Linked DNA regions of Homo sapiens: region 1 is linked to region 2. A link means that fine-mapping ties the variant in region 2 to the expression of a gene that starts in the linked region. Tissue or cell type: whole blood. Region 2 holds a variant in brackets; the other region holds the start of a gene. All regions are shown on one strand. Distances are from middle to middle.

What was found. PIP is the estimated chance that this variant, and not a neighbour inherited with it, causes the effect.
Region 1: ASIC1 starts here. The variant in region 2 is fine-mapped to the expression of ASIC1 in whole blood (TOPMed, PIP 0.95).

The regions. Positions count from the first base shown.
Region 1 is chr12:50,054,841-50,059,950 of GRCh38, forward strand. It overlaps ASIC1 (acid sensing ion channel subunit 1), which reads left to right and starts at 2,756. Exons shown (of 12, transcript NM_001095.4): 1 at 2,756-3,076; 2 at 3,911-4,288; 3 at 4,919-5,110. The coding sequence starts at 3,927. RefSeq lists silencers at 2,559-2,718, 2,789-2,958.
Region 2 is chr12:50,131,566-50,136,565 of GRCh38, forward strand. CERS5 (ceramide synthase 5) reads right to left here. Exons shown (of 10, transcript NM_147190.5): 7 at 4,376-4,504; 8 at 4,167-4,273; 9 at 2,981-3,137. Among named protein-coding and RNA genes, the nearest start is that of COX14, 22 kb to the left of the region's middle. The variant G/A (reference allele first, on the strand shown) is at 2,237.

The DNA.
Region 1 (5,110 bases), 77 kb before region 2:
TGGCATTGCAGTTTTTTTTTTTTTTTTCTGAGACAGAGTCTCGCTCTGTTGCCCAGGCTAGAGTGCAGTGGCACGATCTCCGATCACTGCAACCTCTGTCTCCCGGGTTCAAGCACTTCTGCCTCAGCCTCCTGAGTAGCTGGGATTACAGGTGCGTGCCACCACGCCTGGCTAATTTTTGTATTTTCTGTGGAGGCAGGGTTTCACCATGTTGGCCAGGTTGGTCTCCTGACCTCAGGTGATCCACTCACCTCGGCCTCCCAAAGTGCTGGGATTGCAGGCGTGAGCCACCACGCCTGGCTGGCATTGCAGTTTTATCTTATTATTTTTATTTTTTGAAATGGAGTTTCGCTCTTGTCTCCCCGGCTAGAGTGCAATAGCACAATCTCGGCTCACTGCAACCTCCGCCTCCCAGGTTCAAATGATTCTCCTGCCTCAGCCTCTCGAGTAGCTGGGATTACAGGTGCCCGCCACCACGCCCAGCTACTTTTTGTATTTTTAGTAGAGATGGGTTTCACCATGTTGGCCAGGTTGGTCTCAAACTCCTGACCTCAGGCGATCCACCCTCCTCTGCCTCCCAAAGTGCTGGGATTACAGGAGTGAGCCACCGCGCCCAGCTGGCATTGCAGTTTTAAAAGCTCCCCAGGTGATTCGAATGTGCAGCCTGGGTTAAGAACCAGTGCCTTAGATTCTGCCCTGGTTTGGCTGCACTGGTGGTTTTACCACTAGATCCAAATGCTAATACTAATAATAGTTATTTACTTATTGGGATTTACTAGGTACATGCCAATGTACTAAGCACTTTCCATGCGTTAGCTCATGTAATCCTCGAAAAATCCTGTGAAATAAATATTATCTCTGCCTTACAGATGAGGAAACCGAGGTCCAGAGAGGTCAAGGGGCCTGCCTATGCTAATGAATGGCAGGGCCAGGTCTGGAAGCTGATTCTCCTGATTCATACCTTCTGTCTTCCCCCAGACTCCTCCTGAGGCTGCTCCTTGGCCTCAATCAGTCCTCGCCTGCCTCCACCTCACCTCATCACCTTCCCTCCACCCCCGCTGCTCCCTCAGTAACATCCCAGGTGACTGAAGCAATTGCAGCCATTTGAAGAGGCTCCACGTGTCAGTCAGCCTGCGAGCCGCGGGGAGGTGGGGAAATTACAGATGCTCCAAAATAGTGTTCCCCTCCCCCTGAGGATATTTGGAATTCAGGAATCAGACTCTGCCTGATGCTTCCTCAGGTCTCTGGGACCCTCCCAGGTGATTTCCCACTCTCAAATGCCCCCCACGAGTTGATTCTAAGTATCTGGGAGAGGGCTGCCACCCAGTGGCTGCCCGGGGGCATAGCAACCCTCCAGCACTGCCTGGTACCGCTGAACAGCTCCCCAAGACCTGAATGGAAGATCCTCCCTTCCTTTTGGCAGCTCCGTGTCCAGTCCCCTAGTAAATGGATCTCGACCTCCCTCCTCCACAATCTTAAGTCCACTCTCCCACTAGGGACCTCCAGACCCCTTCTCTGGTTTCCTAGATGTCCACTACTCCCAACTTCTCATCCAACTTCTTTCCAATGTGCCATCCCCTTCTCGTTACAGGTTTTCTTCTAACTTAAAGCCCGGCACCATGTCCTAGGAATACACCTCTCACCATCCTTCTCCCCGAGCCGCACCAGCCTGCAAGTAGAGCGAAGGAGCCACTAGAGACAGAACTCTGGTCCCCCGCACCCTCCTCCTCATCATCTGACACCATCAGACCTCAACAGCCTCTGTGCTAAGAGCCCCTAATGAGCATCAGCAAATTAACAACTTCCCCTTGATTGCTCCTTCTCTGTTAATTGGATAGGGAGGGCCCCCCTCCCCAAGGCCTCTCAGAGAAGAGGAGGGAGGCAGGGAAGGAGAAAGGTGAGAGCCACAGGAGCAGCCCCCAGGCCTGCGTTCTGTGCTGAGACTTCTGCTCCATCCCTGAGCATAGCTCCCCGTTCCAACCCTTCCTCACCCTGTCCCCTTCACTCCCTTTGCCTCCTTCCTTCTGTCCAAATTCCCTTGACCTCTGGCTATTTTTCCTTCCTTTTCTCTGCTCCTTCTTTGGAGATTTGGCAGTAAGGGGTTGCGACCATGCCCCCCACAAGCCCAAAGCTACAAGGATGGGATCTGAGTGGTCAAGGCTGCGTGTTGGCTCACATATGTGCACGTGTATATGTGTCACATGCAGGTGGGAGCAGGGATAAGAGCAGGTGAGTGCTTGCCATGTGGGTCAGGCCCCCGGGATACGTGGACATCTGTTGCGGGGGGGTGTGGTTGTGAATGGTGTGGTGTGACTCTGGTCGGTATGTGTGTCTGTCTCCATATGGGCTAAGTGCTTGAATTAGTCAAGTGTGACTCGGAGCGTGTGTGTGTATGTGTGTGTGTACGCGCGTGTGTGCCACCAGAGGAAGCAGCAGCAAGAGGCAGGAGCATCGATCCGAAGGAGACAGCGCGGGGAGAGGGACGCTAGGGGCAGACACCCTCCCTCCTGCGCGCACACACGCGCGCGCGCACACACACCACACACAGAGTCATACACACAAGCCATAGGGCCTCGCAGGCAGGGAGACGGCTCCGGGACTGGAGAGAGGCAGCGCCGCCGAAAGCGGCCGCGAGGAGGGGCGAGGCGGCGCGGGGAGCCCTGGGTCCCGCTCCCGGATCCGGGGCCCCGCGCGCACACCAGCCCAGAGACAGCCTCGCAGACACTCGTAGGCGCGCACGCGCACCCTCTCCCCTCCCCCTCCCCTCCCGCCGCCTCCCGGCCGGACGATGGATCCCTGCAGATCCCAGGGCTGAGAGCACCGCGCACCGCGCCGAGCCCGGGCAGACCGAGCCGAGGCGAGCGAGCCAGCGAGCCAGCGCGCGCGGGCGGGCGGACAGATCGGAGCCGAGCGGGGCCGGGCGGGGCGCTCCCTGCAGGGCTCTGCGCGGCGTGCCGCGGCGGCCGCGGGCTCCGGCCCCGGGCCATGAGCCCCTCCGCGACTCGGCGCTGAGCCCGCCACCGGTCCAGCGCCCCAGGACCCGCCGCCGGCTGCCGGCTTGCCGAAGCCCCCTCAGGTGGGTTTCCGATACCCCTGCCTTTGGCCGCGAGGCTCCTCGGTACCCCGAAGCCGGGACTCTCCTCCCTCTGGATTTCCCTTGCTGCTGGGGCGGCTCGGTGGCTGGGGAGGGGGGCGGGGGCCGAGCTGGGGATCTGACTGCGACGAGAAGCTGGACTGGGGGGGGCTGCGTCCGGGGCGGGGACAGCTCGCTGTCATAGGGAACCGCGCCCCCCCTCCATACATCCACCTCGGGCAGCCCGCCACCCCCCACTCCCAACATACACACAGCCTGCGCTTATGTGAGAACTGGAGACACCCGCAGGTGAGGACTCAGGCTGGGCCCCTCCCTAGATGTAGCCACCTCCCTGGGGGTTTTCTGGCCCCAGTTTAGCCCTTAGGACCACAGCCCCGTCCAGGGAATACCCGTGACCAGGACAGGAGCTCCTTACCCCGGGGTCAGCCCATCTGGGTGAGTTTTCATCTCCAGGATGGGGTGGATATTCTTGTCCCAGAGTGACCCCACATCTGGAGGGAACTCCTGCGCCTGCCTATGGGTGCATCAGGACTTCCCCCTCAACCTCGGATGACTATATCTGGGGTCTCCCCGGGCCTGGGAAGCTTCTCTGGGGAGCATTCTCTTGGCCTGACCTGACCCCCTGTGCCTCTGTATTTGGAGGAACCCTGGATGTGTCCCTTGGTCAGCCACCTCTGGGCTTGCAAAGCAGGGAAGTCTTCTGCCCGAGGAGTGGTGACCTCTGGAGATGAGGATTCTGGATGGGCACATGTGGAGGGGCTCCATGTGTACTTTCATCCCAGGACAATGATAGACTGTCCCTCCCTCCTCCCCCAGGATCCCCTCAACAAGGATGGAACTGAAGGCCGAGGAGGAGGAGGTGGGTGGCGTCCAGCCGGTGAGCATCCAGGCCTTCGCCAGCAGCTCCACACTGCACGGCCTGGCCCACATCTTCTCCTACGAGCGGCTGTCTCTGAAGCGGGCACTGTGGGCCCTGTGCTTCCTGGGCTCCCTGGCTGTGCTGCTGTGTGTGTGCACGGAGCGTGTGCAGTACTACTTCCACTACCACCATGTCACCAAGCTCGACGAGGTGGCTGCCTCTCAGCTTACCTTCCCTGCTGTCACGCTGTGCAACCTCAACGAGTTCCGCTTTAGCCAAGTCTCCAAGAATGACCTGTATCATGCTGGGGAGCTGCTGGCCCTGCTCAACAACAGGTGGGTGGCTCCCACCCTCCCTCAGCCCTGCTCCTGGAGTTGCTTGAGTTCCAGTCAGGATGTCTGCCTCCCTGACCCACCATAGAGCCCAGCCAACCCTGCCCTTTAACCCACCCCCACCCCCAAACCTGCCACTCACAGCAGAGGAGTTAGGGTGCTGCTGAGCACCCAGTTAAGGGCACCCAGCCTCCGATCCCAGCATAGTCCAGAACAGCTCGACCCCCACCCAGCCTGAGGTATGAGACATTGTCACCCTCTCTGGAGTGAGCTTTACCTTCATTCTGGCCACTCTGTCTTGACCTTCTCGTCAGTTGGGGGATGGGGACAGAACATCTTTAAAGGGTAGAAACTACAGTATAAAAGCCACAGCCCCTGCCTTGTCTCTCTGCCCACCTTATCCATGCTTCCTCTCACCCATGTGCTGGGATGGGATGCCCTGCCCCTGGGCAGCCACTACAGTTCCTCCTGTCATTTCAGACCCATGTGGTAGAGCCTCTGCATGCCCAGCTCTCCTTCCTTGCCTACACCTGGGACTGATCCCCAGGGCTGGAGGCTGCCCCCATCACCCAAGTTGGGTGCAGGACACTGATGACTGTACTGACCCGTGTGTCACTCACCCCCGGACCCCAGGTATGAGATACCAGACACACAGATGGCAGATGAAAAGCAGCTGGAGATACTGCAGGACAAAGCCAACTTCCGCAGCTTCAAACCCAAACCCTTCAACATGCGTGAGTTCTACGACCGAGCTGGGCACGACATTCGAGACATGCTGCTCTCCTGCCACTTCCGGGGGGAGGTCTGCAGCGCTGAAGACTTCAA
Region 2 (5,000 bases):
AAAAAAAAAAAAGAAAAAAAAAAAGAAACTTCAGCATCCCCAAGATACACAGTATAGTGAAAACACAAATGGATTGGCAGTCAATGAGAAAAGAATCCCAGTTCTAATCATGCTACCATCTGTGAATGCTTATTAACCTGGGTTTTTTTGTTTTGTATTATTTTCAAATGAAGCATTTGGATTACAGCAGCATTTCCTAATCTAAACTATCCTGCATATCAAGCAAAGTATTTCAATTTCTCCACCATGAGCCAGGCACAGTGGCTTACACCTATAATCCTAGCACTTTGGGAGGCTGAGGGAGGAGGACAGCTTGAGCCCAAGAGTTTGAGACCAGCCTGGGCAACATGGAGAGAGCCCTGTCTCTACAAAAAATAAAAAATGACAAAATCAGTTGGGCATGGTGACATGCACCTGTAGTCCTAGCTACTTGGGAGGCTGAGGCAGGAGCATCTCTTGAGCCCAGGAGGTCGAGGCTGCAGTGAGCCATGATTGCGCCACTGTACTCCAGCCTGGGCAATGGAGCAAAACCTTGTCTCTAAAAAAAAAAAGGGCCGAGCATGGTGGCTTACGCCTGTAATCCCAGCACTTTGGGAGGCTGAAGTGGGCGCATCACCTGAGGTCGGGAGTTCGAGACCAGCCAGACCAACATGAAGAAACCCCGTCTCTACTAAAAATACAAAAAAATTAGCCAGGCGTGGTGGCGTATGCCTGTAATCCCAGCTACTCAGGAGGCTGAGGCAGGAGACTCGCTTGAACTGGGCAGGCAGAGGTTGCAGTGAGCCAAGATCACGCCATTGCACTCCAGCCTGGGCAACAAGAGCTAAACTCTGTCTCAAAAATAAATAAATAAAAATTAAAAAAAAAAAATTACCCTGGACTCTAATAGTAAAGAACAGAAATCCAGTGAGACCTGTGTCGGACTTCTGACCTCCAGAACTGAAGGATAATAAATGTGGTTTAAGTAAAGGAGAGAAGGAAGTGAAAAGGAACACAGCTGTAACAACTGTTGCCAAGGAGGTGGGCATTTGCTTTGGATCAGCTCCTTGAATTTGTGTTGGATGGGTCTTCTACAGTTGATTATAGCTGTTGGCCTCTGAACTTAGATGACTAACTGATTACCTGACCTTTAGGAAATTTCCACTAGAGGGCAGAGTGTCTCTAGATTTGAGGTAAACAGAGACTCAAGAAAAACAAAAAAAAGTAGACTCAATTCTTGCCTCAGTTTAGGAAAAAATCTGGCAACTGCAGCTCTAGTCAATAATGGCCCCGAAAAGTCAGGAGAGAGGGCATGCTCTGAGACAAACACAAGGGAACAGAAAGGAGAGCAGGAGGAAAGAGAACCACATTCAGATGGACATGCCTCACTGAATACTAGAAGCACAGATACACTTACATGCAAGAGATGAAACTGTCCAGCTCCCGCCAGGCATAGAAAAAAGGAAGGAGGTGAGGAAAGAGTGGAGAGTACAGGGTCTAATCCTTCCTGGACAGGTCACCTAGTCAGGAAAGAAAAGCAGGAGAGAACAGAGATGTCCAGTAGCTACAGCAAGATGCACAGGCACACTGAGCAAGTTCTGAGCCAATGGCAGCTATAAGGAATAATGATGCAGGAGATCATCAATATCTAGGCCACATTCCATCACTTGGTCCTAGTATCAGTACCTGCTCAAGCAGAGCCCCTCCCACTTGGGATTCTGTATTCCTTTAGGCTGAAATCCCTAGCCCTTTGACTACAGTCTGACTGCTTCAAAACTTGCAAAGTTCAATTATGAGTTTATCATTAAGTGGCACCTTTCTTTCGCTCTTGGCATAAGATGGGTATTTGAAACACTACATACCCATTCACTTAGGACACTTGCCTCATACACTAGTGGGGTGAGGTGGGTATTTAGTTCCTTATATAAACCATATCTTGAATATCACAGCATGGTCACCTTGTGGTGGCTTGTGAACTACCACACACCACTTCTAGGCAACTTAACAATCTGCTTTTATACAGTTTATATGGTTCTGCATATGATTTCCTTTGAAAAGGGCCCCATGTCAAAAAGAAAAATATGAAATCCACTGAAGCAGGTAGGTAAGGGGTAGGAAATGGTTGAGGCCATCTCTTAAAAAACTCTTAACCCTATCATCCTTTAACAAAAGCCATTCCTAAGGGACAGGAAGAAGGTAGAACTTTCCTCTTGCGTCTAAGTCACATCTTAAAAGGTAAAACAGGCAGGCCAGGTGC[G/A]GTGGCTCACGCCTGTAATCCCAGCACTTCGGGAGGCCAAGGTGGGCAGATCACAAGGTCGGGAGTTAGAGACCAGCCTGGCCAACATAGTGAAACCCCGTTTCTACTAAGAATACAAAAATTAGCCAGGCCTGGTGGCATGCGCCTGTAATCCCAGCTACTAGGGAGGCTGAGGCAGGAGAATCGCTTGAACCCAGGAGGTGGAGGTTGTGGTGAGCCAAGATCGTGACATTGCACTCCAGCCTGGGCAACAGAGCGAGATTCCATCTGAAAAAAAAAAAAAAAAAAGGTAAAACAGGCTTGGTGTGGTGGCTCACACCTGTAATTCCATCGCTTTGGGAAGCCGTGGTGGGAGGACTGCTTGAGGCCAGTAGTTGGACATTGGCCTGGGTAACATAGTGACACCCTATCTACAAAAAATAAGAAAATTAGCCAGGCGTGGTGGTGCACACCTATAGTCCCAGCTACTTGGGAGGCTGCAGTGGGAGAATCCAAGCCCAGGTGTGAGGCTGCAGTAAGCTATGATCATGCCACTGAACTCCAGCCTGGGTGACAGAGCAAGACCTTGTCTCTAAAATAAAAAAGGCAAAACACTTACCGAAGAGGCGAAGACTTTGGAGCCCTAGGCTTTTTGCTTGGCCTGCTTGAGTAGATGGGGCTCACCAGGTTTGATGGAGAGAGAACGTCTGTTGAGTAATCCCTATCTTCCATACCCAAAAGAAAGAAGCCATCTTTCATCCTCACCTTTCCCCTGATCAAGGCTTTCAAAGCAATCCGTGCAATTAGGTAGGACCAGATGACATGCAGAAGCTGTAGGGTCAGCAGCAGGCCATTGAGGAGCCACCATGAAGCATAAGGCCCGATTATCTCCCAACTCTCAAAGAGGGTCGTGTTCAGAATCCTAGAAGAGGGAGGCCAATAGTCAGATTCTAGAGTCAAAGCTCAGCAGACAGGGATGAAGCTGAGTCCTGGGGATGCAGAGCCCTGTGTGTTTTCCTACCAGCCCTTTTATCAGCTGAAGTTCCAGGGACCGTCATCCACAGTAAGAAAATAAAGAAAGGGAGGAGCCTGTTGTGTTTTCTATCCTTAGGGACAGAGAAAGATATATAAATCTTAGGAACTGATGGATTAAGTCACATTATTAATCACTTCAAATATCCAGAGTTTCACGAAATTAGGACAGCAGTGGGACTCTAATCCTATGAATGACTGAGCTCCTCAGGCACATATAGGATAGGACAGTAGGTAGCTGATTCCCATAGAGCAGTGAATGTAAAAGTGAAAGGAGACAGGGAGAGAGAGGAGAGGGAGGGAGGGAGAGAGAGGAGAGGGAGGGAGAGAGAGAGGAGGGAGGGAGAGAGAGGGGAGGGAGGGAGAGAGAGGAGAGGGAGGAAGAGAGAGAGAGGAGAGGGAGGGAGAGAGAGGAGGACAGGGAGGGAGAGAGAGAGGAGGGAGGGAGAGAGGGGAGGGAGGGAGAGAGAGGAGAGGGAGGAAGAGAGAGAGAGGAGTGTGTGTGTGTGTGTGTGTGTGTGTGTGTGTGTGTGTGTGTCAGGGTTGGGACCAGAGCAGGAACACAAGCAAGAAGGGACTGAGAATTGTATCAACAGTGCAAAAGAAGTCAAAGGAATTACTTAGGCATAAAATGAGGACTGTTCCTCAGAGATGAGTCAGTCCTGAGAAGCCAACCAAGCCGGGTACTCTGAGTCTGGATCCGACCTTGCTAGAAATACGGTCTGAGGCAGCAGAGGTCCTATGAGAGTCCACAGAAGGTCAGCACAGGCTAAGGTAAAAGCAGGGCAATAGGGTTCTTGTGTTCTATTGGCGAAAGTAGAATAGAATAGAACAGAAAAACTGAATGGGCAAAATGAGAATTGGCAAAAAGGTATCATTAGGCTCATACCTACCACAACTCTACAGCCCTACCACTTACCAGAATGGATAGATTCCTAGTCGTGTAACCATAAAAACAGCACTGAAGATCACAAAAAGGGTGTCACAGAGCCGCTGATACTTGGCATAATTGGCCAGTTTGGCTGCCTGGAGAAAGGAAGAAAGAATTGAGCTGGGGAGAAAGTCATTCCTCACATAGGAAGAAAAGAAGAGAAGAAGAAGATGGAGAAAGAGAGATTGGGTTTTTACCTCCAGCAAGAAGTCTGAGACATCATGTAGACACATGATCAGAGTTCCCACTCGAACCATATTGTTGATGTAGGAGAAGGAGATAAGCCCAATGGTGACCAAGTGATGCACAAACATGATCAGGAAGTCCTAGGAAGGAATGGAAATAGAAGAGGGAGGTAAAAGCTGGGCCCTAGAAACACCAGCCAACCCAACGTCCTGCATTATTCTCTAAGAATCTTACCCCACCCCATATAGAATAGTTTCCATTGGCCGGGCGAGGTGGCTCATGCCTGTAATCCCAGCACTTTGGGAGGGCAAGGTGGTCGGATCACCTGAGGTCAGGAGTTCGAGACCAGCCTGGCCAACATGGGGAAGCCCCGTCTCTACTAAAAATACAAAAATAAGCCGGGCTTGGTGGCATGTGCCTGTAATCCCAGCTACTCGGGAGGCTGAGGCAGGAGAATTGCTCAAACCTGGGAGGTAGAGGTTGCAGTGAGCTGAGATCGCGCCACTGCACTCCAGCCTGGGCGACAGACTGAGATTCCGTCTCAAAAAAAAAAAAAAAGTTTCCATTCTGCTTAGACTCTCCCTTGGCTACCTAGCATTTAACTGAACACTCCCTACATCAGTGACTGACCCATAC